Linked DNA regions of Homo sapiens. The protein of the gene in region 7 purifies or fractionates together with the protein of the main gene of each other region. This does not show direct contact. Each region holds a gene or a part of one and is shown on either strand. Other genes may lie near its edges.

Evidence for each region.
Region 1: the proteins of STUM (region 7) and TAPT1 purify together in Homo sapiens (affinity purification with mass spectrometry; one large-scale study listed by BioGRID and IntAct). This does not show direct contact.
Region 2: the proteins of STUM (region 7) and HSDL1 purify together in Homo sapiens (affinity purification with mass spectrometry; one large-scale study listed by BioGRID and IntAct). This does not show direct contact.
Region 3: the proteins of STUM (region 7) and FAM241A purify together in Homo sapiens (affinity purification with mass spectrometry; one large-scale study listed by BioGRID and IntAct). This does not show direct contact.
Region 4: the proteins of STUM (region 7) and TSPAN6 purify together in Homo sapiens (affinity purification with mass spectrometry; one large-scale study listed by BioGRID and IntAct). This does not show direct contact.
Region 5: the proteins of STUM (region 7) and DPY19L1 purify together in Homo sapiens (affinity purification with mass spectrometry; one large-scale study listed by BioGRID and IntAct). This does not show direct contact.
Region 6: the proteins of STUM (region 7) and NDUFS4 purify together in Homo sapiens (affinity purification with mass spectrometry; one large-scale study listed by BioGRID and IntAct). This does not show direct contact.

What each region holds. Positions count from the first base shown.
Region 1 is NC_000004.12:16,219,972-16,223,471, forward strand, and holds part of TAPT1 (transmembrane anterior posterior transformation protein 1 homolog), read right to left. Parts: intron 1-3,500. UniProt on the Homo sapiens protein: Plays a role in primary cilia formation. May act as a downstream effector of HOXC8 possibly by transducing or transmitting extracellular information required for axial skeletal patterning during development. May be involved in cartilage and bone development.
Region 2 is NC_000016.10:84,121,641-84,124,909, reverse strand, and holds the end of HSDL1 (inactive hydroxysteroid dehydrogenase-like protein 1), read left to right. Parts: intron 1-181; coding exon 182-280; 3' UTR 281-2,769; downstream 2,770-3,269.
Region 3 is NC_000004.12:112,183,454-112,186,953, forward strand, and holds part of FAM241A (uncharacterized protein FAM241A), read left to right. Parts: intron 1-3,239; coding exon 3,240-3,485; 3' UTR 3,486-3,500.
Region 4 is NC_000023.11:100,634,007-100,638,275, forward strand, and holds the start of TSPAN6 (tetraspanin-6), read right to left. Parts: upstream 2,801-4,269; 5' UTR 2,689-2,800; coding exon 2,602-2,688; exon of another isoform or gene 2,185-2,601; intron 1,741-2,184; coding exon 1,552-1,740; intron 1,247-1,551; coding exon 1,172-1,246; intron 24-1,171; coding exon 1-23.
Region 5 is NC_000007.14:35,013,486-35,016,985, reverse strand, and holds part of DPY19L1 (protein C-mannosyl-transferase DPY19L1), read left to right. Parts: intron 1-3,280; coding exon 3,281-3,418; intron 3,419-3,500. UniProt on the Homo sapiens protein: C-mannosyltransferase that mediates the C-mannosylation tryptophan residues on target proteins.
Region 6 is NC_000005.10:53,675,639-53,679,138, forward strand, and holds part of NDUFS4 (NADH dehydrogenase [ubiquinone] iron-sulfur protein 4, mitochondrial isoform 1 precursor), read left to right. Parts: intron 1-3,500. UniProt on the Homo sapiens protein: Accessory subunit of the mitochondrial membrane respiratory chain NADH dehydrogenase (Complex I), that is believed not to be involved in catalysis. Complex I functions in the transfer of electrons from NADH to the respiratory chain.
Region 7 is NC_000001.11:226,593,764-226,597,263, forward strand, and holds part of STUM (protein stum homolog), read left to right. Parts: intron 1-3,038; coding exon 3,039-3,218; intron 3,219-3,500.

The DNA.
Region 1 (3,500 bases), on a different chromosome or scaffold from region 7:
TCACTGCCAGAGCCATCGAGTTAGCCTCGCTGCTTCTGCTCTGCCAGGACCATTCCCACCTTTTCCTGGAGAAGGCTGCATTTCCCAGAGCGCCACTCAATCTCCAGTGCCGAGGTATACCTGCGTTTCAGTGTTTCGCTTGTTTTTATTTTGTTAAACATTGCTCTCTAGAATTCTATAGACCTATCTGAACTTATCTGTCCTATAATTTTGGCTACAGTTGACTGGTTAATTATTTAGCAAAGCCACTGTTCTTTACCTATGGGTATCACCAAGAACTCTGACAGCTAAGTACATCTTAACTTCTGTCAGACTTTTGCAGTATTTCATTCCTTCTAAGCAAAACAGTCACTCTCATTTGTTATGCCAAACATCTACCTCTACGTTTTAAAAATAAGTATTTTTCCAATAATCCAAATATTTACTTTCTGAACACTGATTTCAGTTTTTAAGATGTCAATTAATCTTAGTTCATTTATCCCAATCTTACCAGGAAGAAATATCATTCAGTAAAAGTTTTTTAAAAATAGACACTTTGGGAGGCCAAGGCGGGTGGATCCCAATGTCAAGAGATGGAGACCATCCTGGCCAACATGGTGAAACCCCGTCTCTACTAAAAATACCAAAATTTGCTGGGCATGGTGGTGCACGCCTGCAGTCCCAGCTACTTGGGAGGCTGAAGTAGGAGAATTGCTTGAACCCAGGAGGCGGAGGTTGCAGTGAGCCAAGATCGCACCACTGTACTCCAGCCTGGTGACAGAGCGAGACTCTATCTCAAAAAAAAAAAAAAAGAAACATTTTACTATTATAGCATAAACAAGTGCTTAACATTAGAAGAACTATGTTTTGACAACTGTGAATTTTCTTTTTTTTTTGAGACAGGGTCTCACTCTGTTGCCCAGGCTGCAGCCCAGTGGCACAATCTTGGCTCACTGTATTTTTTATAGAGACAGGGTTTCACTATGTTGCCTAGGCTGGTCTTGAACTCCTAGGCTCAAGCAATCCACCCGCCTTGGCCTCTCCAAGTGCTACGATTATAGGTGTGAGCTACCGTGCCCAGCCGTCAACTGTGAATATGTAATATGAGGAAAATAATACCAATCATAAATCCAAATCAATTCCTCCAGCACATACGTACATATATATATACTTTTTTTTTGGAGACACAGTCTTGCTCTGTCACCTGTTGCCCAGGCGTGAGTGCAGTGGCACGATCTCGTCTCACTGCAACCTCCACCTCCACCTCCTGGGTTCCAGCAATTCCCCTGGCTCAGCCTCCAAGTAGCTGGGATTACAGGCGCACACCTCCACGCCCAGCTAATTTTTTGTATTTTAGTAGAGACAGGGTTTCACCGTGTTGCCCATACTGGTCTCGAACTACTGAGCTCAGGCAATCCACCCGCCTCAGCCTCCCAAAGTGCTGGGATTACAGGAGTGAGCCACCGCGCCCAGCCCCTCCAGCATATTTTTACATGATATCATCTCCTACCACAGAATTGCTCTGTGATCCAGAACTTAAATTCAGAAAAAGCATAGTATAAATTGCTTTTTCTTCACCCCTAAAAGAAAAAACACAATGTTTAATTATCTTCTAAGAAAGCTTATTTTAGAAATAAGAACCAAAGATTAAAAAGTATTAATTAAAAGTAATGAGTAATCATAAATATATTTATATGTTCAGTAATATGTCTAAATATATCTTTCTTAAAATAGCATTGAGCATTTAAAAATTTGGAAAGTAATACTGGTTAACTGTTAGGAAAATATGAAACATGCATATCTCCATAGTCTTAAATAACATAAAACTTTAGTAAACTTTATTAAGGTTACACTAAAATATTAAATAAGCTTATTGAACAGAGACACACTCTTGTACCAGGCCAATTAGTAATCAGCTTTTCTGGGACTCAATCATACAACAGCAATTCTGCCTTCCTAAGTCAAACATTAAGTAAAGAACCATTTCACACAGTATATTCAAGTTTTTAAGATGTTTGAAAAAATGTTTATAGTCTCATTTAGAGGAGTAAAGAGTAGAATATTTACACATGTATAGATGGAAAACAGGTATAAACAAAGGAGTGACTTTTTCCAAGGTCATAAGGTTATAAAGCAAAGGATTACAAATGAGAATAGAATATCATTAATTTGACAGTCAATGCTATATAGGCTTTCCAGAGACTTCTTTTATGCAAGTAGTCCCCAAATTGGAGCACAAATGAGCTGCTAGGATTGAATTTCAGAGCGTAAACTAAGTTAAAGTTAAAAACTGTCAAAAGCCAAGACACTGAACTGATCAAAAACCAAAATAAGTAACTTTTCATTGTTCGTTTGGTCTATATATACTAATTAAGTAAAGCAAGTGAGAATTTTAAAAGCAAAGCAATAGTTTGTCAGAAGTAGCTAATTTTACTTTGTATCTGGTTTGTGGTTACTCCAAGTAATTTCCCGGTTTTATTATTTTTATTTTTCTTTGTGAACAAATTAATTGGCTCTAGATCATAATTTTAGAATCAGTCACCCTTTAATCATCCATTTGGTTAAGTTTGGGGCCACTGGGATAACTATGTGATATAGGTGAAGACTGGTTAAATGAAAACATATTTTAATAAAAATGTATTTGTAAGAAGAAACTGACAAATTTTCAGTTACACAAAGAATAAGACATAGGTAATATGAATAGTTAAAACCTTCGTCCCACTCGAAATCTTTTAAGGGTATTGCTAAAAATTCAGTTGACTTTTCTGGGTTTCATTCTTCCTGCCTCTGCTCAATCTCTAACAGAGGTGAAGCAAGAAGAGGTCTAACCATGGTTAAAGGGAGAGGAGAGAGGCAAAAGAGATGGATAATAAGTTGAAGTTTTAGAAGTCCAGAGTCACTGTTAAAGAAGAAAGAAATGGGTCCATGGCACTGTTACCAGTAGAAACAATATGTTCACCTATACCCGACTTCAGGCTTTCTTGTTTTACAAGCAATACCTATCCCCATGCATCTCCAACACCTGCATTACACAGGTACTGTTTCACCTGTGCTACCCTCACAGGTGCTACCCTTATTTACACCAAGCCTTCTGTTAAGTCTCCATGGTGACTAGAAGCAACCTAGATGCTTCAGATACTGAACTATCTAGTAGTGGCATTATGAAACAGAACCAAACTGATTAGGCAAGCAGTCTAAGCAAGCACAGAGTTTACAAAGCAATTCAACAACCCAACCAAGCCAAAAACACAGATTTCCTAATGCTTAGTCCAAAGTTGATTTGCTGTACTTAGATTCCTAAATAAAAATATGGCTATACAGAAACTCTCCTACCTAGGACTTCTGCAGATGAATCAAGTGGGGAACAAGCACAAAAACATAACATTGATTATTTGGTTTTATGTCAAAAGGAACAACAGAAGTTGGTAGTATTTTCAAGGACAGGAAGAAAATACAGAAGAGATCAATCTGCAGTTCTTGATAACCACTACATCCAGAGTTCAAGGCCAGTAACCACATAT
Region 2 (3,269 bases), on a different chromosome or scaffold from region 7:
GATTGGTGGGTATTTGTTGTGATTGATTGGTGGGTATTTGTTGTGATTGGTGGGTATTTGTTGTGATTGATTGGTGGGTATTTGTTGTGATTGGTGGGTTTCATGTGCTGGTCTGTGTACTTGTTCCTTCAGTGTTGATTTTGGGTTCTAACCTTACAACCTTTTTCTCTTTCATTTTTAGTTTCTTTTTGCACAGTATATGCCTGAATGGCTCTGGGTGTGGGGAGCAAATATTCTCAACCGTTCACTACGTAAGGAAGCCTTATCCTGCACAGCCTGAGTCTGGATGGCCACTTGAGAAGTTTTGCCAACTCCTGGGAACCTCGATATTCTGACATTTGGAAAAACACATTTAATTTATCTCCTGTGTTTCATTGCTGATTATTCAGCATACTGTTGATTCGTCATTTGCAAAACACACATAATACCGTCAGAGTGCTGTGAAAAACCTTAAGGGTGTGTGGATGGCACAGGATCAATAATGCCTGAGGCTGATTGACGACATCTACATTTCAGTGCTTTTTCCCTAAGCTGTTTGAAAGTTACGCTTTTCTGTTGTTCTAGAGCCACAGCAGTCTAATATTGAAATATAATATGATTTGTCAGGTCTTATAATTTCAGATGTTGTTTTTTAAGGGAAATTGACCATTTCACTAGAGGAGTTGTGCTGGTTTTTAAATGTGCATCAAGAAAGACTACTGAAAAGTATTATTTTGTAACTAAGATTGCTGGTACTATTAGGAAAAATCTGTGTGTATTGTATAGCTCTAGCTGTTTGACTATCTGTAATGAAAATGCTGCACTTCAACTGGTATTTCATTAGAGAACCGTGTGTGTGCGTGTGTGTGGTGCCTTTGAGCAACTTTATTTATGGTTACCATATTTTTAAAAAGATTTTTTGTCAGGGTGACTTAACATGGACTCTTATAGGGTATTAAAACAATCTAGATTATTCCTTTTCATCCTAAATAAGCCTACCAAATTTCATGCTGTTGGTTTGCCATGAATGATATTACTTCCTACATTATATTTGTGTTTTTTCAAATCTGCTATGGAATGAACTTATTCCTAGATTTGGATATGTAAGAGAAACCTGCAGTCATCTTTTGATTTATAAGGCAATTCTTGTGGATAAATAGTGATTTCTCAGCCTCTGACCCATTTTATAACTGAAATTTAGCCCTTTAGAGCTTGTTATATCTGGTTTTCCTACGTTTTTCTATGTAATATTATTCCATTCCAGTAGCATTATTGATAGAAATAGTAAGTATTTATGGAATAGTAAAATATGGACAAATTACGTGTGTGACATATCTGTCAATATAAGTTAGAAGCTTATTCTTGGTTTGTGTAATGAATTTATGTATTGTAGTGAATACCTTTACTGGTGTGAAGATAATTATGCACAAACCCTCACAATACGCGTTAACATTGAAACCTGTGAAATGTCCTTAGTTTGGGTCATATAAAGCCAACCATTTTTGAGGACCATGTACCTAGTGCTTTGAAAACTCTAAGTCACTATATGAATATGACAATATGTGCACATTTAAAATTCAGAGCTCGGCATTGTGATACTGATGCAGAAGCTAGTAGATTGGTTAAAAGTCTGGACTTCTGTGGCATTTTTTTCGTGACGTGATAATCTATCATAAGCAGACCTAAGCACAGTTTTATGAACACAATTTTGCCCATGACATTGCCTACAGGATTTCCAGATGTGACTTGCACTCAGAAGATCAGTGGTCAACTTCAGAAGCTCTTCCACGCTTAGATCATGTCTTCAGAACTTAGATGTGAAAATCTACACACTGGGAGATGCTGTGAGCCCCAAGGTTTTGATGGAGTTTGCTTGGAATCCTCTTGACTTCATGCCACATTGACGTGAACTTTGATGTATAATAAGCAGCAGCAACTTCATGTGAAAATATGGTCAGGTAGTTATATGTAAGGTTACGTGGTCCAGTAATGTCTTAGATTGATAAATTAGGTATGGAATCCATCAGTGTTACGTGATGAGAATAGGTGAACACACCTTGTCAGTGATGATGTAAACTTCTCTCCTTGGCAGGACATGGGCAAACATGCTGATTGGTGCAAATGTGGTGCCGAGCTGTCCATAGCTGCAGTGAAAGATGAAGAGCAAGACCTTCTCTAGGTTTTCTAGCTTTCATTAAATGTATTTTTTTCCCCAGAGCTAATTTGAAAGTTGATTGGACCACTGTGGATGGGGTGTCATTAAGAATGTGGGAAATAGGGGCCGAGTGCGGTGGCTCACACCTGTAATCCCAGCAGTTTGGAAGGCCAGGGCAGGTGGATCGCTTGATCCCAGGAGGTCGAGACCAGCCTGGGGAACACATCCTGTCTCTACAAAAAATACAAAAATTAGCCAGGCAGGGTGGTGCATGCCTGTAGTCCCAGCTACTTGGGAGGCTGAGGCAGGAGAATTTTTTGAGCCCAGGATGCAGAGGTTGAAGTGAGCCAAGATCGTGCCACTGCACTCCAGCCTTGAGACAGAGCGAGACCCTGTCTCAAAAAAAAAAAAAGAACGTGGGAAATATGAACCTTTGAAAGTTAATCTGTGAATTGAAAGTTTAACAATAAAAGTAGTTGTTTGTTTCCTTTGGAAGAGTTTTGTTCCAGATGTTTGTAATTTGGTTGTTTGTAATTTGGAATGAGAGAATTTTTTTTTCTTAGGAGTGATTGCAAGAAATTAACATGAACAACAGTGGTCATAACTGATTAAAAGCTGACACGTCAGTAACAAAATTGTTTATAACTATGTGCCTAGTCTTTGGAAGCTACTGGGTTGACTTCTGGATCTCTTTCTCTTGGTAGGTTGAGTAAGGTGAGGATTGATTTGAGCATGGAATTTGGCTGTGTGGATGGAGATCATTGGTGATTTTTTTCCATGAGCCATTTCAGTCTTCAGGCTAGAATTGTAATGGATTCAAGAAAGAGTGGGAAGAAGAAAAAAAGGGAAGAGAGCAGATAGAGACAGCTCCTAGGAGACTTTCCTGTGTTTTCCTATCCTCAATTACTTAAAATCTAATCACATTTGGGAACCAGAGGGTTAGATGGTTATGTCCTCAAAACCTATTCCAGTCAATTTATGTCTCAGTCTCAGTATTGGCTTATGTGTTATTTATCTTTTTAAAAATTCATATATGTTTAATGAGTATAAAGCCAAGCACAGGACAGTCGTGAATTCAGTAGAAATATTCTCTGTTATTCCTGGCCGCGTGCAGTGGCTCACGCCTGTAATACCA
Region 3 (3,500 bases), on a different chromosome or scaffold from region 7:
GATTTAAGTGTTGCAACACCTCCTTCTTCCCCTGAAAAACCCACAAGCATTTGTAGATTTAATTTATTTTACAAAGAATTTAAACCTTCAGACAGTACCTACCACATCCAGATTAGGGTACTTTCTTCGTACTAAAACCACAAAAATACTGAAAAAAAAAGTCTTAAAAAGCTTCAGTAACAACAAAAAAAACCCCAAAGTACAATGAGTGCATAGATTACAAGAAATTGGGAAGAGTAAAAAAAAAAATTTTTTTAAGAACTTTAATAAAAAATGAAGAAAAAAAGGCCAGAAACAGTATCAACATGCTGAACACTGGAGAAATAGAGAGGGATGAGGGATCAGCAGAATTACATACTAAATCGAGGACTCTTCAAGTTCTACCCTAAAGAAAAGAAAGCTTTAATATTAGGCAAGAATAAGGGTTTTTTTAAAATGTAGTATATTGTTATGGATCATATCAAAGTACAAGAAACATAAAATTGACCCAGTCATAATATATCAGTGAAGGAAAAAATAATTTAGAAATCAATTTTTTAAAAAAAGAAAAGATCCACAAATTATAACTTAAGAGAAAACTATCAGTATCAAAAAAGGATCACATAAATCATTTTATGGATTAGAAAACTGAAGTTCAGGAAAAGTGAAGTAATTTGGCTAAGGTCATGTCACTCAGTTAAAGTGTTGCAGCCTGGATGTGAACTCCCTAGATAACTCTACAACATTTTGTTCTTCTCACTCTTTTTCTGATAGAAGTGAAAATCCAAAAGTAATTTTAAAAATTATATAAAATAGGCCGGGCACAGTGGCTCACGCTGGTAATTCCAGCACTTTGGGAGGCCAAGGCAGGTGGATCACCTGAGGCCAGGAGTTCAAGACCAGTCTGACCAACATGGTGAAACCCTGTCTCTAGTAAATACAAAAGATTAGCCAGGCATGGTGGTGCATGCCTGTAGTCCCAGCTACTTGGGAGGCTAAGGCAGGAGAATTGCTTGAAGTGTGAGGTGGAGTTTGCAGTGAGCCGAGATTGTGCCATTGCACTCCAGCCTGGGCAACAAGAAAGAAACTGTCTCAAAAAAAAAAATTATATAAAAGTATAGCTCAAAAGTAAATCTGGCTTGAACACATGATGTAGACTCAACAAAGATGCCCCAGTGAGTCTCATTTTTCTACTACCTCATCAGTCCCCCTTGGTACTCATTACTGTACATAAATTACTAGTATATGGGAAAAGCCCATTTCTTAAAGTCATACTGAAAATCATTTTGTCTGATTTTCTATTTTAAACAAAAGTTAGATTTTTTTTCACTCTTCCCTTAAAGATTTATTTTAAACTCTATGTGTACAATAGAAAATAAGGCTTCATATAGCCATTTCTTTAATGAAAAAAATATTTTTAATTATTTACTGATCGATGACTGAAATGATCAAGCTTTGGTTTCTACTAAAAGAATGTAAGTTTGATTCAGATGTTTGAAGAATGTCTTAAAATTTCCTCAAATTCATTGGCTGTTTGTGGCAGATGATTTTGTGACACTCCCTTATAAGATAATTAATTTTGCTTTCCTTTGGCCTATACGGCATACTTAATGGTATTTAATACTTATTATGTGAAGCCCTATATCTAAAGGCTTTTTAAACGTATAATAAATTCTCCATCATGTACATACTATGAGCAAATAATTCAATAATTATTTGAATCATGCCTCCTAAATAAAATATATTTAAATAAATTATAATTATCTCACCTACATGACAGTTTTTCTTTTGTGATTCTACTAGGGTCTGGGGCGGTGGGGAGGGGGAGAGAAACTATACCAATTATTTTAACAAAGATAATTTAATATAAGTAATTGTTAACTGGGTATTGGAAAAGCATGGTCACCAGATCAGCATCATAAGCATCACCTAGAAACTTCCTAGAAATGCAAATTCTCAGACTCCAACTTCACCCCTGACTTACTGAATCAGAAACTCTAGTAGTAGGCCCAGCAAGCTGTGCTTTAACAAGCCCTCCAGCGGATTCTAACGCATGCTAAAGTTTAAAAACCACTGCACTAAAATATCACCAAGACAACCACTCATAGGACTGGGCAGAAAGAAAAAGAGATGGATGGACTTACTGAAACTGAGAAGCTTCAAAAAGGCCCCCATGGAACTGAAATTCAGACTTTTGAGAACAGGTCACTGCTTGCCTGGTACTGATTTCTCTGAGTTCAGAGGAGGGAGCCTATAGACCTGGGAACCAGGTATCTGAGGAAGAAGCACCCAGTAATTGGAGCTGGCATCTCAAGAAGGCACATTGAGATTGGTTCTACAAGTGTTGGAAAACCCCCAAATTGCAATCAGCTGCTACTACTAGCAGGCACTATTGCTGTCGGAGTGAAGAATTGTTGCTAGAGTGAGACTTAACAGGATTAAGAAACCCATCCGAAGGAAACAGCAAATTCCTTCTTCCTTCTCTACCTGTGAAGTGTCACGCTGGTCCCTCTATTGGCAGAGCCTAACAGGGAGACAGAAATGCTTGCAGAATTCCAAAGAGTGGGTTTGAAGCCAAGAGACAGTAGCTTACTGTCATGGCCTTAATTATAATACAAGTGGAAGATAATAGAAATAATACTTTAGGTATGTATAATTGGGTGCATGTAGACATTTTCTGGGATACTAACTACTGGGTAGACATTTGGCCTTATTGTAAAAAAAAAAAATTTGTATTAAAACTATTTGTTTCTCCTGATGAAATTAATAAGAGGCATTTAGGGCATCTATATAATGAACAGGAAACTATGCAAGGGCCTGCGCTGAAGTCTGCTTAGCTGAGCCTAAGACAAAGATCACAGCAGTAGTGGCTGAGGATTGCTCAATAATAACAGCAAACATGCTTTGGTCATCTGAGGCTCGGTTTCTTAACGTCTTAGTGTCAAAGGAACCGTCTAAAAAGAATCTTACCAGGACAGAGCAGTCAGGCCTTGCCTCATAAAACAGGAGGGTGGCAGAAAAGGGTGTTCTGAAATCATGGTCACTCACAAGAGAAATACAAACATGATTCTTCACTTAAGCAGTCATTTTTGTGCAATTCCAGGATCAAAAAGAACATTCCCATTGTGTTAACAGGTACTTGTAGAATAATTATCAGAAGTATGCCCAGCACTTTGGAAGATGAAGAACTAAGGTTCTTAAAGACGTTTACATATTTCTCATGTTATGTTCATGTTTTGTCTTTTTTTTTTTTTTTAAAGGATGTTGAAGACTCACAGAACCACACTGGTGAGCCGGTTGGAGATGACTACAAGAAAATGGGAACACTTTTTGGTGAACTGAACAAAAACCTTATCAACATGGGCTTCACAAGGATGTATTTTGGAGAACGAATAGTGGAACCAGTAATAGTCATTTTCTTTTGGGTTATGCTGTGGTTCCTTGGCCTGCAAGCCCTTGGACTAGTTGCTGTTCTTTGCCTTGTTATTATTTATGTGCAACAGTAAAACATGGCCGAATTG
Region 4 (4,269 bases), on a different chromosome or scaffold from region 7:
TTATTCTTAAAGCTGTTCTTAATCTATAGCAAAGAAACACAATGTCAGTAAGAAAATCCTCTAGAAAGTTTTTGGTTTCAGGTCAAATAAGTTCTCGAATCTGACCAATGGTCATATCTTTGACAGCAGCAACATGTATAGTAATTAACTTCCATGGTACAGTCCTGTCCTCTAAGGGGTATAGGTTAGCTGAGGGGACTACTAAGCAAAACATTAAAATATATGATGAGAACCACTACAAGTTCAAAGTGCTGTGGGAATATGTATTTATCTGAGTGGCAATGCAGTATTGCTGTATTCTGCACCCTGCTAATTTTTCTCCACTTTAAACTGAGTTCAAATTCGATGCCTATGGAATTTGTAAGCTACAAAACCTTACTTTGGGAGGCTGTGCTACCACTTTATGAGAACTCTCATTAATGAGCCTTTGCTACTCACCGAATGTTATTTGAACAACCCCAAGTTTACCTGTTTTCTAATTCAGTATTAAGCTTTTTTTTTTTGAGATGGAGTCTCGCTCTGCTGCCCAGGCTGCAGTGCAGTGGCGCGATCTCGGCTCACTGCAAGCTCCATCTCCCGGGTTCATGCCATTCTCCTGCCTCAGCCTCCCGAGCAGCTGGGACTACAGGCACCTACCACCACGCCCGGCTAATTTTTTGTTTTTTTTTGTATTTTTAGTAGAGACAGTTTCACCGTGTTAGCCAGGGTGGTCTCGATCCCCTGACCTCGTGATCCACCTGCCTCGGCCTCCCAAAGTGCTGGGATTACAGGCGTGAGCCAACGCGCCCGGCCCAATATTAAACTTCTGATGATTTGCATTAAGTATATCCAATCTTTTCAAAATGCAAGGCATAAGAAGGTTATCAATTTTGTGCTTTGAATATTTTCCTATCAGCAAAGTTATAAATTGTACTATCTCCGTTTTAATAGGTATTTATACACAGAAAAACGACAGGGAATATAAGTAAGTAATTTTCTTCTGGTGACTATCAGTCTTTACAATTTTCTAAATTTTCTTTTAAATTAGAAGTGGACCAGAATTTTTACAAGAAGGCCATTATTGTCAGCTACAGGTTTAAATACAGAGGTCTGACTCTTCTACTTTAATAAATCCATTTTTATCTCTCAGAGGATAAATGTAACATGCTAAGCTTCCCTAATTCAGGCTTACCTCATGTCTGAAAACAAATCCTACGATGGCAGCGACCAGTTCGACCAAAAAAACGAGAGTCAGAAACATTGCATACTGCAGGATAAGAAAGAAAGTCCAAGTCAGCATAAATAAGATATAGCACAACTGCAAAGGGAGTCAAAGAAAAAATAATGGTCGTCTTCTCAATTAGTTCATCATGTTTTCATTGAAAAGGGCAGGGAAAATAACAACATGTCTATTTTGAAAGTGGAAACTGGCAGCTGAACTGTTACTTGATAAGTTTCCATAAGGAACAGGAAAAATTGTAAAGGGCCATGGCCAGTTCCAACAAAGGAATTCTATAACATACAAAACTTTTCTAAAACCAAGAATCAATTCTAATGAAAACAAGGACTCACCAGTTTTAGCATCCATGCAGAAGCTCGGCAGGTAGCAAAACAACCAAAGGTGCCCAAAAGAATAATGACGGTACCAGTAGCAATGAGCACGAAGGGGACATTGGTGGCCTTCTCATTTAAAAGAGAAAAGTAATTCTCCAGGCTCACCTTGCCCCAAATGCCAACTGCAAGAAGGATAACGCCAGTGATCTATGTGGGAATTCAGAGAATACAAACAGTTACGCACTGTGTACAGCAGCATCTTCAAATCACAACGCATGAGGTATTTAAGGCACAATAGGTGTAATATGCTGGGATACGGCAGACAAGGGGGAAGAGTAGAAGGGGTTAGGGGGGGATCTGCACACAAGAGCAGGCTGTGGACCAGGTATCTTATCAAAATTCTTAAAATTCATCTTTTTGTGTGTAAACACAAGCCCATGGCATATTTGCCCTAGGGATCAAAACTTCCTTAACTATCTTACTCCAACCTTAGGAAGAAAACCTTGAAGGGGAAAAAAAAAACGTGATTTTATGAGTTCCAGAAACTTCCCCCGTCCTCTCCAGGTAGGGATGGGCACAGGGTACAAAGGACTGGTACACAAAAGCAAGCCCAAGGATAGACTGGCGGGAGTGGAGGCATACCATACTTACCTGCGAAACACTCCTCTCTTACGAAGCAGTGAAAAGAAAGACACTATTATGCAAGTGAGCCCTCAAAGGGGCCGGGCAAGCCTTGCTTGCCTTTGCAAAGGTCCAGGGTCACCGTCTGCGTGCTCTGGGGGCTTAAGGCCCCACCTCGCCTCCCGTATCGAACTCGAACGCTGGTACGTCTGGGTCCCAGCTCAGCCTCTCGGCTGCCTTCGTCCCGCACTCCGACCCCAGCGCCGGCGAGATGCCTGAGCTCTTTGTTCGGGGCCCAGTCACTGGTCGCCGGCGTCGGGGTCCCAGGCGCGATGGCCGCCCAAACCCCACACCGTTCCCGACCTGAGCTCCCGCCGCTCAGGGTCACACCCCCCACAACTAAAAGCCCGGGATCCCCTGCCGGCCCCAGGCGCCTTCGTCTCTCACCCAGAAAATAAAAGTGTAGATTAGCAGAACGCTCTTGAAACAAGTAATGACTGGTTTAGTCTGCAGTCTCCGAGACGGGGACGCCATGACTAGCCCGAGACCCTGCACCACCGCACCGGGCGATTGGAACACAGAGAGCGAGACGCGGAGTCCCCGAGTCTCCCCGGAAACTGCCGAAAACTTACGAGCGTCCACAACTGAGAAGGGCCGGAAACACTGTACAATTTTGTAGAGGGTAAAGTATGGGAGGCTGTCCGGAAAGTGGCAACAATTTCAGAGCGCCCCCTGCCGAAGGTTACCGAAAACTATATACAAAGGTTCTAGTGTCGGAAATTTCATAGGTCTTCAAGTGGAGCTTTCTTCATTGTTTTTTTTCTATCCTAAGGAATCTTTCCCGCCCCCCACCCCTCCCCTCTCCTTATAACTTCACCATATTGTTTCTATCACCAGCAGAGCCCGCAGCGCTCTGAGATTGGGCCTCCCTGGCCCCTGGTGCCCTAGAGAGAAGGAAAAGAATGAAGAGGTTAAAAGCGACCTAAGAAAATACATGGGAAAATACCCACAAGAAATATATTTGCAAAAAGAAAGCGGATTGCAAAGCAATACATACAGTCACGTGTGCTTAGACAAAAACTGAAAGGAACAGTGAAATTTACCTCTGGTGGAATTAGGCTGATTTTTTTCTCACTTGTGTGCTTTTCAATTTGTGAACATTGTTTTATGGGTTAGGAAGGGGAGATGTGAATGGAGGAAAATAATCACCACTTGTTGAAAGAATTTCTAAGCTAGGTATTAAAGATAATAATGACTTTAGAATTTACCTGCAGGACTTTGCAAAACCCCAGTATTCCTCTCCTTTTTTATCCCCTAAGTAATTGGAAAGTTGAGGGAAAGTATTTTTACATAATAGTGAAATGTAAGTTCAGCTATTCGCTGTAAACTTTTAAAAAGAGAGAGTGCAATGGAAAAATCCCTGGTGAGTGTGACCTCCTCTTAAATGTTAAAACAGAAAGGCACTGTACATTCCAGCCACCTGGTTTTTCCCATCAAAACCCAGCTGATTACAGAGAGATTAAAACCTAATGTTATATATTGTGAATATATTGGTCTATGTTGTTACAACACAGGAGGTGCGTTAAGGTCTGATTTCTCAACTAAAGCGTCAGCTCTTTGAAGGCAGAGACTGAGTGTTAAGTGAGTTTGTGTTATCTCTAGAGGAACGGGGTTAGAAGGCTGTATCAGTTCCCTATGCAATCCAACCCTTCATCATTGACACAAGCTTAATATCACAAGTGGCTATTTACTCTATTGCCATTGCAAAAAGACCTGCATTTGTGGAGGAGAGATGAATACTCAAACTTTTCTGCTTGAAACGTTGCTTTAAACATACACCTCAGGACCAGAACACAGGAAAGTTCCATTGACTTGGTCACACAGAGCTTCCCTGTGCTTCGAATATTGACCTAGGACCAGTTCCTATAACATCTTGCCAGACGTCTGAGGTGCAAGGCAGCAACTGTTGGAAAATTAATTATTGCATTGCCAGGCTTTATACTAAAATTTTTACTAAAATTTGAAAGGCCTAATACACAAATACATGGAGAGAATGGATAAACGATACATCTACATACACCTTCAAACACTTTGAGGTAAAGTCGTTAGGAAATA
Region 5 (3,500 bases), on a different chromosome or scaffold from region 7:
GTTTGAATAGGATCCAAACAGTGCCTACACATTGCATTTAGTTGATGTGTATCTTAAGTCTTTTAATATGTGAATTTCTTTACCTGTTTTTGTTTTGTTTTCCTGCTATTTGTTTGTTGAGAAATCCAGCTGATTTGTCCTATAGAATTACCCACAATAATCCTCATTCTTCAATTATGTTCCTGTATCCCAAGTTTCCTGAACATTTATGGATCAGAAGATTTGACTTATTTTCTGGCAGGAATACTTCCTAGGTGGTGCTGTATACTTCTATTGTATCAGGCCAAGAGGCACATCATATCTGGTTGTCTCACTTTCTGTGATGTTAAGAGTGATCACTGGCTTTAGGTATTGTGATGCTGATTCCTCCTATAGCCTAGCCATCAGCCTAGGTTAGTTATTTCATTATCCTTCTCAAACTGTGGTACCTAATCTATCATTTTTTTCTTTGCACTTATTAGCTATAATTCTTCTATTAAGAACTTTCACACAATACCTTTTGATTTCTCCCTGAGGTATATCATAGAGGAAAGTCAGAAAGATGCTTTATTCTTTCTTTTTATTTACTAATATTCAGAAAAATGAGTAGCTTCCCTAGCATCTTCTAGTAGTGATCAATGGAGTACCTTCTTTTGGAGTATCATTATGATATGATGGATTTTAACATATTTTGTAAACTTTCCTGTCTTTAGCTATTAAAGCCCTTGCAGCTCTCCTTGTTTGCCCTTGATGTGACCTCACTAGTATCCATGGCTTCCTTACTTTCAGGTACTACAAGACATTTTCTTCTCAGACCTGGCATCAGCCAGTTTTCCCATGAGCCACCATTTCTGTCAGTGGCAGATGCTCATTGCTACTAGATTGGCCATTGTATTTTGGCCTTTTTACTGAAGAGAATTAGGCTACAAAAATTTTTTTAAAGAGAAAAGAAATCATGAATTTATATTAATTTTTTAAATGGAAACAAGATTAGATTTTTTTTTACTTATTTGATATTAATCTTTTAGTTTGAGAATCTTGGTTTCAAATTATTGATTTGTTAGGAATAAAAGTACCAAAGGTATAATTAAAAATGTGATTACTGAAAAGAGTTTAAGATTTTCTTGCAGTTCGCTTCTTCACAGGGCAACCCCCAGAATTGGGGCTCAGCCCAGGAGGCCATGTGGGTTCTTGGCTTTGGGCAGGAAGGAATTCAAGAATGCTCCAACAGAGTAAAGTGAAAAGAAGTTTACCTTAAGAAAGTAAAGGGATGAAAGGGTGGCTGCTCCACAGGCAGAGCAGCTGTGAGGGCTGCTGGTTGATTGTTTTTAAGGTTATCTCTTCATCATATGATAAACAAGAGGTGGATTATTCATGAGTATTTTGGGAACAGGGAGGGGAATTCCTGGAACTGAGGATTCCTCCCTCTTTCAGACCATACAGGGTAACTTCCAGAGGTTGCTATGGCATATGTAAACTGTCATGCTGCTGGTGGGAGTTTCCTTTAGTATGCTAATGTATTATAATGAGCACTAAGGATGACCAGAAATCACTTTAGTTGCCATCTTGGTTTTGGCAGGTTTTGGCTGGCTTCTTCACCGCATCCTGTGTTATCAGCAGGGTCTTTGTGACCTGTAACTTGTGAAACCAGTCCTGCCAAGTTCCTGGGCTCCATTTTAACCTTAGGATATAGTCCACTAGGGATATACAGTAAAATTACAGTATCTTAATGTTACTTGAAATCTTCTTCCAAGTTGATAAATAGTTAATTCCTTTCTTTCATTTTTATTTTGATATTTAGGGATTTTTAAATTTTTGTTTTATAATTAAACATATGTTTCCAAAATCAAACCTACAAAAGAAGGAAGGTATAGTTTCCTAGGGCTGTCATAAAGAAGTGCAACAAGCTAGGTGGCTTAAAACAGCAGAAATATATTCTCTCACAGTTCCAGAGATTAGCAGTGGGACATTAAGGTGTTGACGGGCATCTTGTCTCTGAAGGCTGGAGGGGAGAGTCCTTCCTTGTCTCTTCTCAGCCTCTGGTGGTTGCTGGCCATCCTTGGAATTCCTTGGCATGCTGATGCCTCACCCCAGTCTCTGACCCCTCTTCACATGGCCTTTTCCCCTGTGTGCCTGTAGCTTTGAGGCCAAATATTCCTCTTTATGTAGGTACATCAGTTGTGTTGGGTTTAGAGTCCACCTTAATCCAATATGACCTCATCTTAACTTGATCACGTCTGCAAGAATCCCATTTCCAAATAAGATCACTCCACAGGGTCTGGTGGACATGAAATTTTAGGGGACACTATCCAAATCAGTACACAAGGAAACATAATTTTAAAAATAGTGGTATCAGAGTCGATACATCAGAGTATCAAGACCATTTTTTTCTTTTTCAATAAGTTTCTGGATAGGCATATCTCTTTTGTATTTGTGAGTCTTAAACCCAGTTTAAACTTTGGCAGCTACTGGTACTGGCTACCAGGGCAGCTCCAGGGAAAACTGAAGATGCAAATACAAGACGTAGATTTATCTTGTGTTTCTGTCTTCCCTCATACTGCCACTTAGACTCTCCGTTAGGCTTCTAGTATTTTCTTGTTTTTTTTTTGTCTCACATATTATTTCACCCTTGCTATCTTTCCAAAGTAGTGTGCCAAGCTAAAAACTGTCTCTTTTCTTCAAAAGAGGACCACTCCCCACCCTTATCCCCAGTCGCACAGGGTTCTTACCTTATGCTGACTTGATAGGAGGGAAAATAATCTGTAAAATTAGGTGGCACCCGAGTGAAATTCATATGTAATAATACATCAGTGTGTAGCCTTCTCAACACATTTGCATTTTTGCATGTAAATCCGGAGGAAAAATGACTGATAGTGTCATTTTGGGGATTAAAATAAGCAGTTAGAGGAGTATTTTTGGCTTGAGATTTCTTGGTTCATGATAAATTTTAGTTCCATAATAAACCACTCACTCTATTCATAAGATAGCATTTTCTAAGAGTGATATTAGTATAAGTAATAGGATTTTCTAAGTTGAAGTATGCTGAGTCGTATTATTTTTTAAATGCTGAAACTTTTTGAAGCTATTTTGCATTCAGTTATTTCAATTAAGATGCATTTATGTGAAAATACATAGTTTTTTCACAACTTTAGGATTTATCAGTGATCAGAAACCTGTGAAATTCATTGTATTAATAGCTATTACTTAATTGCTTTGTTTTTCAAAAACAGTGTATTTACTTAGAAGTGGCATCATAATTATGTACCTTTTGTTATTTTAATTGAGCATATCTTTATTTCAGGGACTATATTATTCCTATTTCAAGACTATTGTGGAAGCACCCTCATTTTTGAATGGAGTATGGATGATTATGAATGATAAACTGACTGAATACCCCCTTGTCATTAATACATTAAAAAGATTCAATCTTTACCCTGAGGTAAGGTACTTTTTCCAATTGTGATTTTTCACTTTTGTAAAAACTTTTTTGTATTAAACGCTGATTCTAAATCTAAGATATA
Region 6 (3,500 bases), on a different chromosome or scaffold from region 7:
ATACCAAAGAGCTGTTCTTTTCTGAGGACAAATTATTAATTGATTTGAGTCCAAAATAGATTAACAAACTAGATTCTCCATTTTTTCTCACCCAATAGAGAATAGACCTCTATAAACCATTAATCCATTTACAGGGATCATCAGATGGTCAGATTGCAAAACCAATTCCCCAGATTAGTAGAGAGCAAAAGACCAGAGTCAGAGTCAGCAGAGTTCTCTTACTGCTTTGGATTCACCTTTTAGAGCCAAGAAAAGAGGTATGCAGGCTTAAGCATAAGGTACACCATTTCTTCGATGATGAAGTTTGCCTGCCTTTGGTTGATAAATCTATAGGATGTCTCAAGGGGACCTCCAAAATGGTTAAAAGAAATTTTCCAGAAAAAGATACATTGACTCTAGCATAGATATACAATAAACATGTATTGAAGGATTTTACTCATCTGATATAAGGGAGCCAGGCAAATGTTATAACCAGTTCAAAGGACAAGTCAAACAGCACAGATTTATGTAGGGTAAAGAAATGTTGAGATGAGTTGCTAATTGAGACAAAACTGATTTTTCCAGGACTGGGTTGAGAGGGGAGTCAAATCTATGAGAGAGGACAGACTTTATGTATCTCTCAATTATAGTTGTTCTCCTTATTCACAGTTATGTTCTTTAAAGTCACTATGAAACACTAAATTAGCAAGAATTCTTATCCCTCGGGATATACATGGTTAGGTTCCTGCAGGCCTCTGGTCACATAGTTTGTCGTCTGACCAGTACATAACCTTGTTTTATATGTGTTTTTGTTTAAAGACACCTTATTTAATACAGTTAATTCATCAACATTGAACTCACAGCCAACAGCACTATAACTCATGCCTAAACAAAGCGTATCTGAAACACATATTGGCACATCACAGCTTTCTTGGAACACTAGATAACATTTCAGCAGTGTTTGGGGACCATTTTAAACAGTGAAATTACCAAAAAGCAGCACAGAAATGCAAAATACTGGCACTAAATAGAGCACAAAAAGTATGCTTGTTTACAGTATGAGAGCTAAAACAAGAAGGCAGAGCATTATCCTGCTTCACCTCATTTAGAAATGTATGTTACGGGACTCAAATTTTTTGACATTCTCCACATGTCACAAATGACCACAGAAGCACCATGGGCATTGATTTAGGAGTCACAAATAAACTTTACGTGAATTCATGAAAGATTTTTTTTTTCATAGATAGCTTTTTCCTCCCAATGTTTAATCCTGGATCCTGTCTGTAGCTAGGGAAGTACTGCTAAGGCGCGAGCACGAGAGAGAATTATATATGGTGGCTTACTGACGTTCCTGGTATATTATAGGTTAAATAGGATTCTGAGACTCCCTATGAGTAGCTTGCAAATCTCTGGAAGTGGTTTTTGGCTATTTGTGTAGTTTTTTTCTCCAGAAAAATGTGTTCTAAATTTCTAATGGCTGATTTTCAGATATACTTTTGGAACACAAAAGCTGGAGTAATGGATTACTACCTTGGTTTGTTTTGTGGCAAATGCTGAATAGTTCCAACTACTGCTTTGAAAATAATAGAAATATTACATAGCAAGTATATTATTTGAAAAGATAAAATTTCAAGGGGCCGTTGACTGTCACATCAAAGCAGTAATTTGGGGTTTGAGAGGTGGCAATACTCTACAGCAGGTGTAGAGTATTACTAATCTAACAAATATTTCAGGTGCCTCATGTTTTCACCTTATTTGCTTGTTTAAATCACTTTATATAAATTTCATGGAAAGACTTGCTTTGCCAGTGTATCCGAAACCTCTGTTATTTCTCCATAGTATTTTCTATAGAAGATCTAGGATACTTTTACATTATTCTGAACCATTTACCCCCTACTGTACCCCACCCCCATATTATGTACCTAATTGGTAATTTCAAAGTAAAGAGACTTTTAAAGTGAAATTCCTAAAAAGCTATTTTTCTTTTCTCCTTCTTAAAATTATATGTTAGGGTTATGCTCCGCTTTCAGCCAGATATAATATGGGTACATAGCCTGGTGAAGAATCTTGAAACCTTCCAAGTACCAGTATACCTTGCTTTGGCCTCCCAAAGCTTTGCTCTTCTGATCCCATGCTTCAGTTGGAAGTGACTGTCAGTTACGTCAGTTTGTGCCAAATTATGTGGTAGTTCTTGTTCTGTGTACAAATGGAGAGTAGGAAAAATCATTTAGCTGTTCACTTCCAAACTCATGTCAGGGTTTGAGATTAGGTTATTAGAGAAGACAGACCTTTCACAGAACGTCAATCAAGGTTACTTGAGATAAAATATTTCACAAGCAATAAAAGAACTGATGGATGTTTGTATTTTTGTATTACTGAACCATAAATGAAATGATTCTGTATAAAAATGAATGAAGTTGATTTTATTTTTCTGTCTTATATATGGAATTCATAAGTTAATTGTGGCCTGGTTTTGTTCAGAGGTTGGGGTTTTTTGGCATTTGAAAAGTATATCATTTATATCATAGGAAATAGAATATTCCACTCACAATGTGGAGATCTACAAAATAAACTGTCATATTTCAGAAAAAGAAATTGGGCATGGGATGTTAAAGATCACATTTTAAGTTTACTACAGCATTTTCCAAAGGTACTTCTCTGATACTAGGGCTTAAAGTTCAGACTATTTTGTGAAAGCGTTTCAGTGTGTGAAACAGCAAAGGGAGTCAGCTTCTCATCATTTAGGTGCTGGTAGTTGGGTTTGTGGCAAATCTGTGCCATATGGCTACTCTCCTCTAGAAAGTGACGGCAGCACTGGGAGCTTTACCTATCCCTAGGGCAGCTGTCTTGGACTCCATTGCTTTGATCTTCTTCTGTCGCACAGCTGAGAAGAGCAAGGGGCTGGTTTTCAGTACCCTAATAGGACAACATATGGGACCATTATGATTGTAGACTATACCTTCATTTTATATAAGCATTCTTCAGAGAGTGCAAGTATTTTCACTTCCATATTCCCATTCAGAAAAATAAGTTTGGGCTCTTTCTTTTAAAAAAAATTATTTTAGGGTTAAAGAAAGACATTCTTATAGAAATTTAAACATTTAATATCTACATTTTATTTCTTGCAAAATACATCCTTTTTAGCAACAAGTTTCAAATAGGAAGTAGAAAAGATGAGTATAATTCGTCTAACTTACCCATTCTTAAGCATACATGCTTAATGTCCTTTCAAGTGTTGTTATTCTTAGAGTTTTATCTTTTTAGCTCAGCTTCCCTGTTTGCTCAAGTAACCTTTACATTCGAGTATAGTGGGACCAGTAAATTTGTTCATCCAGGTACTGTAACAAACACCTTGGAGGAGGATGCTTGGAAATGTGATCAGATTCTTAACAGTACCTCAAAAAACAGCAAATTTTTATTATGATGACAGCCCTACATAGCAGAAAAGTTTTCTGAATAATGAATAGAAAATCCAAAGAGAGATGTATGTGGATTCTTACTTTAGTTTTAGTCTCTATTGT
Region 7 (3,500 bases):
AGTTGTCTGATCTTGAATCCGTGGTTTTCACACTTTAGTGAGCCTTATCATTCCTATTCCTTGGAGGGCAGCGGGGAAGCTTGTTGGGAAAAGCAGATGCCAGGTCACCCTTTAGAAATTCCGTAGATCTCAGGTGGGACCCCGCATTTTTAACAAATGCCACAGGCGATGAGGCAGGTGGTAGGAGGAGACACTTGATGTTGGGTGTACTTCTTTGAATGCCACAGGCCACCTACTGTGTACAAGGCACTGTGCAAGGGGCTGGAGGGATGAAGGTGAATGAGATGCCGCCTGAGACCTCACATCGGTGGCAGTGGTTACGATGAGGAGGAGGAAAACGAGGCAGGGTCAGTTTCAGAAATCAGCATGTGGACTCAGGCTTCAGCCTTGGATCTGAAGCACAAAGGTGTGGGTGAGAGCAAAGGCCACACCTGGAAACTGTAGGAGCCAGCGAGTTGGGCAGGGAAGGGCCAGAAACCAATGAGTTGCATCCTGGGACCTCACACTGGTGGCGGTGGTTAAGATGAAGAGGAGGAAAATAAGGCAGGGTCAGTTTCAGAAATCAGCACATGGACTCAGTTCAGAGTGGGAGGCAAAATAAAAAACAAGGCAGCCTCAAAGAGCAGGAACTGAGAGAATCGAACGTGAGGAATGTGACAATGGTCACCAGTCTTTTGGTCAATTTCCCAAATGCCCTGCTTTCTGGTCTGGGCCCGCTTTTAACAGGCCATCTACACCTGGGAGGCAGTGCAGAGGGGCGTGGCATTGGCATCTGACTCTGGTGGGTTCAATGCTCACCTGTCATTGTGACCTTGGACAAGATGCTTAGTTCCTGAGAGTTATTAGTCAGGGTTCTCTAGAGAGACAGAACAAGTAGGATATATGGAAGGAGATTTTTTTTTTCTTTTGAGATGGAGTTTCACTCTTGTTGCCCAGGCTGGAGTGCAATGGCACGATCTTGGCTCACTGCAACCTCTGCCTCTTGGGTTCAAGCGATTTTCCTGCCTCAGCCTCCTGAGAAGCTGGGATTACAGGCGCCCGCCACCACATCCTGCTAATTTTTGTATTTTTTAGTAGAGACAGGATTTCACCATGTTGGCCAGGCTGGTCCCAAATTCCTAACCTCAGGCGATCTGCCCGCCTCGGCCTCCCAAAGTGCTGGGATTACAGGCATGAGCCACTGCGCCGAGCCCTGGAAGGGGACTTATGAGGGGAAGTTGGCTCATGTGATCACAGAGGTGGAGAAGTCCCACGATAGGTTGACTGCGAGCTGCAGAGCTGGAGAAGCTAGTAGCTGGCTCGAGCAGGCAGCATGGCACAGTCCAAGTCTGAAATCTCAGAACCAGGGAAGCTGACAGTGCAGCCCCCAGTTAGTCCTGAGAGGTCCCCAGGGGGCCGCTGGTGTAAGTTCCAAAGTTCAAAAGCTGAAGAACCTGCAGTGTGACGTGTAAAGGCAGGAGAAGATAAAGCGTCTCACCCTGGAAGGAGGAAAGGAAGCAAAGAGGACATTCCCCTTCCTCTGCCTGTTTGTTCCTGCTAGGCCCCCGACCAATTGGATGGCGCCCACCTACACTGAGAGCGAGTCTTCCTCTCTCGGTCCACTGGCTCACACATCAGTCCCCTCTGGAAACAGTCTCACAGACACACTCAGAAACAGTGCTCCACCAGCCGTCTAGGAACCCCTCAATCCCATCAAGTTGACACCTAAAATTAACCATCACACTGAATCTCTCTCTGTGTGTGTAAGAGTGTAGTAAGCCAAACAGTGGCCCCTAAAGATGTCCACATCCATATCCCCAAACCTGTGAATATGCTACTTGATGTAGTAAAATGCACTTTGCAGATGTGATTAAATTAAATGGATGGGGAGAGCATCCTGGATTACCCAAGTGGGTCCTGAATGCTATCACAAGGGTCCTTACTACAGGGAGGCAGCGAGAAGATATAAAGACAGAAGCAGAGGTCAGGGAGAAGGTGCTACGCTGCTGGCGGTGATGATGGAGGAAGGGGCCACAAGCCAAGGAATGTAGGTGGCCTCTAGAAGCTGGAAAAGGCAAGGAAGTAGATTTTCCCCTGGAGCCTCCAGAAGGACTCATCCCTGAGGACCCATTGCAGACTCTTCTAACCTCCAGAACTATAAAAGAATAAATTTGTGTGGCTTTTAACCATGAGGTTTGGGTAACTTGTTACTGACGCTGTAGGGAACTATGACAGATATAGAGAATGCTAATTCTCTGCACGGTTGTTGTCAGGAGGGCTCAGAGCCCATGTAGGAAAGGGGCCTAACTCGGTAAAGGTAGTGATGTTACCCATAGGGGCTGAGTCTTAGACAAGGTGAAGAATGTGACCGCACCCACCACGTTGCTTGGCACCTTGTGGATGCTCAATAGAGCTTAGGCTCCCTGTCCCTCCCCTTACAGGTCAGGGTGTCTAGGGGAACCCCATCAGGGAGGGGCTCTGGGACACCTGTCCTAGTCTGCGCCCTCTACACTGCACAGTGTACTACTACTACACTGTAGGCTCTTGGCTCCTGTCCCTTAGCGAGCAGCATGTGTGCTGGGTGGTCATTTCCTGGCCCTTCCCCTCTCCTGAATTTACCTCTGAGGTTGCTTCTGTGTTAACTCAGACACATCAGCTTCCACCTCAGAACTCTTTGGCTCTTGGAATCTTTGCCACATAAAGTTGCCTTTTCCAACTGCCTGTTGTCCTTGCAAGTGGCTTCCTGATTGCTCCTTCCCAGAAGGGACTGCTTGTCCTGTGACTTCCTTGTCTCCCCCAGAGGTTCCAAGACTGTATGGGGCCCCTGGCAGCCCCGTGCAATACCTCCTCCAGGTGGCCCACTGAACTCTGCAGTATGGAGATGAGAGGTGGGCCAGGGTCTGGGCAGGGGTGCCACTCAGAGGACAGGGTGCCAGACATCGGTGGTTCTTCTCTGAGTTCTTGGAGGGTGGACAGCTGGGCCCCAGGCCAGCAATGAGCACACAGACCCCTTTGTCTCCCAGTGCCCTCAGAAGGCTGTCCCCTCTGGCCTCTCACAGGGACATTCGTCTCGGCCTTCACTGTGCTGTGCGGGGCCCGCACCGACCTCCCGGACAGGCATGTGTGCTGCGTCTTCTGGCTGAACATTGCAGCAGCCCTCATCCAAATCCTCACTGCCATCGTCATGGTGGGCTGGATCATGAGCATCTTCTGGGGCATGGACATGGTCATCCTTGCCAGTGAGTAGCTGTTGGTGCTGCGCCTCCTGGGGGTGGGGAGTGGCCAGGGACAGGAAGGGCTTGGGAGACCTTCATGTCTGGCCGAGGTCCTGCTCACCCGCTAAGCACGGGCTCTGGAGAGGGCTTGCCCGTGTCCTCTTCACAACTCCCTGGGCTGCTTGGCACTGGGGACCCTCCCCGCCAGGCCTGGCCCAACACCTGCAGGGAATTATGAGTGGATGGCAGGAGAGTTCCATCATTTAATGCAAACTTGATTCAGACACAGAATGGTTTTGTGAAAGG